2 separate regions of the Homo sapiens genome follow, and region 2 is linked to region 1. Evidence: fine-mapped expression QTL. Tissue or cell type: regulatory T cells. Region 1 holds a variant in brackets; the other region holds the start of a gene. All regions are shown on one strand. Distances are from middle to middle.

The links. PIP is the estimated chance that this variant, and not a neighbour inherited with it, causes the effect.
Region 2: it holds the start of INTU, and the variant in region 1 is fine-mapped to the expression of INTU in regulatory T cells (Schmiedel 2018, PIP 0.95).

What each region holds. Positions count from the first base shown.
Region 1 is chr4:128,592,131-128,594,892 of GRCh38, reverse strand. No RefSeq gene overlaps it. Among named protein-coding and RNA genes, the nearest start is that of LINC03140, 23 kb to the right of the region's middle. The variant T/C (reference allele first, on the strand shown) is at 1,600.
Region 2 is chr4:127,631,896-127,634,395 of GRCh38, reverse strand. It overlaps INTU (inturned planar cell polarity protein), which reads right to left and starts at 1,439. Exons shown (of 16, transcript NM_015693.4): 1 at 1,216-1,439. The coding sequence starts at 1,361. RefSeq lists enhancers at 1,410-1,589, 1,252-1,791.

The DNA of each region.
Region 1 (2,762 bases):
GAATTGGGGTTTTGCTAGATAACTTCAGTGGAAGGATCAAGGGTCAAGGGAATTTAGAATATAAGTAATATGTTCTGGATAGGAGGAAACTGAAGACAAAAGTGGTTGGTGGATGGGCAGAAAGGAAAGAGGAGGAGTGATGGGAGCAACAGAGTAAGCTGGAGGGAGGGGGATGTAGCCGGAGGGCAGTCATCTGTACTTGTTATCTCAGGGGGGATGTCCAGGTCTAGGGTGAAGCTGTGAGAATGGAAGGCGGAGATGGGGTATGGAAGATCACTGGAAGATGAGGAGGTCAGAGAACTGAGTGCTCAGTGGTTAGATGGGTCAGATAGAAAGAATATGAAACAAATGCCAGGCTTCAACGACTGAGGAGGAGTGAACAGAAAACCAAAAGAGAAGAACATCATGGAAGGGCAGTGGGGGCTTGGCCTGATGACCTGGGCCTTCAAGGAGCAGGAATCCTGAGGCAGATGTTGGTGATTTTTAACCTCATCCTTTCATCATTTTTCTTGCTGATAGAGCCTTCCTTCCCCATGGAGATCACATGTATGAGCTCATGACCCAACCCTAGCCAACAGGACTAGGGGGCAATAAGATGGGGGCTTCGGGGAAAGATTTTCCTCCTTGTTAGGAAATTGTAGGTGAGGAGAAATTGCACTTTCCAGTTTTGACATTATAGCAGGTTGAATAATTCCCCTGAGAGATATCAGGTGCTAATCCCTGGAACCTGTAAATGTTACCTTGTATGGGAAAAGGGTCTTTGCAGATATGATTAAGTTTAGGATCCTGAGATAGGGAGAATATCCTGAATTGTCCAGGTGGGCCCTAAATGCAGTCACAAAGTGACCTTTTAAGAAAGGGGTAGAGGGAGATTTGATATAGACAGAGAGAAGACACACACACACACACACACACACACACACACACACACACACACACAAAGGTAATGTGAAGGTGGAGTCAGAGATTGGAGTGATGTGGCCACAAGCCAAAGAATGCTGGCAGCTATCAGAATCTGGAAGAGGCAAGAAACAGATTCTCCACTAGAGCCTTCAGAGGGAGAAGAGCCCTGCTAACACTTTGATGTCAGCCCAGTGACACATCAAACCTCTGGCTTCTAGACCAGTGAGAGAATAAATTTTTGTTGTTTTAAGAACCAAGTTTGTGATATTTGTTACGGAAGCCATAGGAAACTAATTCAGATGTAGCAGTGAGGGATTTGATGACTGGAGTGGCAGCAGCTATCTTGAAACCATGAGGACACAAACCTGAGGATAAAATTAAATACAATATCCTGGAGAAGACAGAGTGGAAAAATGGAAAGACCTGTTGAATTAGCCACATATCACTCAACCTTTTGACTTCTTATCATGTAAGATAATAAATGTCTTTATTGTTTATGGCTCTTCTGGTTGGATATTCTGTTACCTGCAGCCACAAGCATTCTAATTGATACAGCCCTATCCAAAAGGGTAGGAGAGTCCTGGCTGGGAAGCAGCAGTGGGTACTAAGGAAGAAATCTGACCCACTTGCCAACTCTGACAAGAGTGCATAAAATGAAAAATGAGCAGCTCCCACTTGAGAGAGGAGCAGAACAGG[T/C]AACTTGGAGAGAGTCAGAAGATTAAGAAAATGGTTAGGGAAAAGATTGTAGGGATAGGGGCATTTGTTAATTATGCAACAGGCCTTTTCAAAGGCAGTAAAAGCTTAGGAAGAGGAAGATAATTGGGAGGTATTCTGAGAAAAGGTGTATGTGAATCATGACACTGTACTGTTATGATGAAATTATATAGAGTATAGGTGGAGTGGGGAATAAGGAGAGACTCGCACTTTGGACAATGACCAAAAAAAAAAAAAAAAAAGGGAAAATAGATACAATGCTTGTTAGATTTAACCAGCCCCAGGGTTGCCAAGAAAACATTTCTACCAATGCCAGGACCAAAGTAGTTTTTGAACTTTAATGTTTATAAGGTTCATGGAGTTTGTTAAAAATCTTAAACATTCCTAGGCCCCAGGACCAAGATCCTGACTCAGTAGATCTCAGTAGGGTCCAGAAATCTGCATTTCTAATGAGTATCCCAAGCGATTCTATTGCAATTGATTTGGGACCACATTTTGAAACACACTGTCCAAAACACTTGCTTTCACATGTTTTTGACTAAAATCTGCATTAAGAAATATATGTTGTGGCATAAGCCACATGCACACACCCACACATAGGCATGCACACACCCACAAGCACAAACGTGTGCACAAGGCAGGTAAAACAATCTGGCTTAACCAAATAGACATTTATTTTTCATTTACACAAAATCCAAAGCTGATGTCCCTGGCCAGGTGACTCCATTTGGGTGACATTCCTCCAAATAATGGCTCAGGATCCAGGCTGCTTCCACATGTGCCTCTGAGATCATGTGGCTTCAAGATTGTCCCGGTGTCATCTAGTGGCATACGGGAAGAAGAAAGCATGGAGGAGCCTGTGTGGGAGGGTTTTAAGGGCCATATCTGAAAGTGGCATATATCCCTCCAGACATACTCTATCAACAGGGTCTCAGTCACATGGCCGGTTGTCGAGGCTGGGAGAGGTAGAGGAGCCCACAGGTCCTGGTAAGCACCATCAGACTCTCCACTGTAGACAGACTGAGATGTGTGTATTTAACCAAGACCAAAGTTTCACAAAATAATACTCCTATCACATCCAAATCCTCTGATAGTTTTCTGTTTTGTTCCATCCCATTCTTTTCTAGTTTATTTTTCAAAACGTC
Region 2 (2,500 bases), 960 kb after region 1:
CTGGGCTAAAAGTATGCGACTCTAAAATGTGGAGAAGCCAAGAGTTTGAGTCTTACACTGTCTATGGCTTCACATACCAAGACCAAATAAGGTTCTATGTAATTCATATTTCCTTCCAGCAGCCTTGTGTAATAATCATGAATTTTAAAATTATTTTTTTAATGCCTACAGCAGATTACAAAAAAATACGATATTTTAAAATTTGTTTAAGTCTTCAAGAATGTATTAAACAGGTTTCCCCACCATACTTTTAAAGGCAATGATAAAAATCTTTTACATACTGATAGGTAAAAACAATTGCCAAATAACAGTTGCTCCTACATACATATAAATGATTTGTAACTGTTGTTCCTAAATACACATAAAATGTCATCCTAAAACTGACCAGGTATGGTTGTCCATTACTGGGTTAGTTGACATTTTGGCACCAAAACTTTTTCACGATTAGTCATTCTCTTCAAGCTACTGCTAGTTGACTTTTCTAAAGTTCTTAATCCATAGCAGTAAGGGGTAGATTTTTCTTAAAAATGAAGTAGCACTGAATACTGTGAATCAAAATAACCTTTTCATGGCATTATTAAGAAAGTGAAACCTTTAGGTATCTGTATTTTTAAAAATTAAATTATGACGTAAAATGGAAAACAAGAAAATCATGGAGATGCATAGGAAAATACAGCAGAAATATCCAGAAGTGCTGAGAGGTTGTCCTTGATGGTGAGACTATGGGTGGGCGTTCCTTCTGTTATATAGCTATTCATTTCCATAACAGAAAAAATCTACATAAATTTAACAACTGCCTTATAAAACGCGTAGGGTGTCTCTCCACTCCAAATACTAAAGAGATTAAGCCACAAAGGTCACACCAAAGAATCAAGACACTGCGATCGAAACAGAGTTTTTTGAACGCTGTTACAGATATATCCTCCTATGGCCTAGACAGAGCCCATGACCAAAAAGAGGAGATTCTCCTCATCTAAGAATCATTGAAAAAACAAAACAAAACAAACAAAAAACAACCTACAGTAGCAAAGAATGGCATCGTCATTTCTGCTCACACCACCATACAATGGAACGTGGTGCAATTAAATCCCACTTATTATAGAACCCCAAATACTCGATTCCAACCACGCCAACACCCTTGCAGTTCCCCCAGCCCACGTGTATATTCTCTGGATTGATGGGATGGGATTAATTGTCCCTCTTTGAAAACCTTACTCATAATCGCTACTCGCTGAGGAATATGAACCCGAGTCGCTGACCCGATCTTCAAAATCATAGTCCTCATCTTCTTCTTGTGAAGAGGGGTCTCCAGGGAGCTCGTCTGAGCTCGGACGCGAATCGCACGAAGCCACAGAGGCCATCGTCAGGAATGCAATAGCTACGAGTGGAGTAATTCAAATCTCGCAGCTATAGCTTGCTAAGGCCGCCATGTTGCCTCTGCTTGGGAAGGGGCAGAGGCCATGTGACCACCAATCCTTAGCTGCAATTGGTGGCAGGTCGCGTTGCCAGGGAGACGGAGAAGCTTCCCAGAAGAAACAGGGAGAACAGAAAGCAGCCAATGGGCTGAAACTTCCAGGAGGGCTTCTCAGTTGGAAGGATAGAAATAGCTAAAACTTCACCGCTTACGCTCTCCGGAACGCAATTCCTTAGAGCAGCATAACCTGTTAAAACAGGCGGAGATGCACTGGGCTTCTCACCTTTTTCTTCCAGTGCTGGATATCCAGTTTGCTCTTTGTCCTGTGTTTCTAATGCCTAACAGCTGTCGGTCAGCCTGGATTTCCTTCGAGGTGAAGGAAACCGCACTTTACCTTTCCTTAGGACCTCATCCGTGCAAGTAATGGACGCTTTTAAGCAACGCGATCTAGGTGTTAATGTAAATACGCTCCATTGTTTTATGGGTTTCATATTGTTTCGCAATTGCAAACATTTTCACGGTTATCCCAAGTGGGTATTGTAGAGTGCCACAAATGAGTGGCAATCCTGTGGAATCAACTTCATGTTCATTTTCTAACTCAAAATTTTATAATCTAATTAAGTGTTCTCATTATTAAAGTTGGAAGTGTAAACAGGTAAAATCTACCTGTTATTTATGAATACCTATATCAAGTATTTTTTAAGTACAAAAATAACAGCTAGCATTGATTGAGAGTCAGCCTTGGCTCTGCTCACTTTATTCATATACAATGCTGAGCATTCACATACTATGAAGTAAATATTTTCTCTATATTAAATAAGGAAACTAAGCTTTAGAGAAGTTATGCATCTTACTAATGGTTACATGGCTAGCAGTCAACAAAGTCAACCAAGAAATGAACCTAAGTCAATAACCATTACATGAAATTTCCTCCCTCAGAACCCAGTAATTCAACTATTAGATATCTACTCTGAGAAAGGATGCAAATTTATAAAATTTGTAAAAGTGAAAAGCTGAAAGCAATCTTAAAATGTCAAATAATGGGGGAAAAGTTAAATATATATAAAATATGATGATTATGATTTT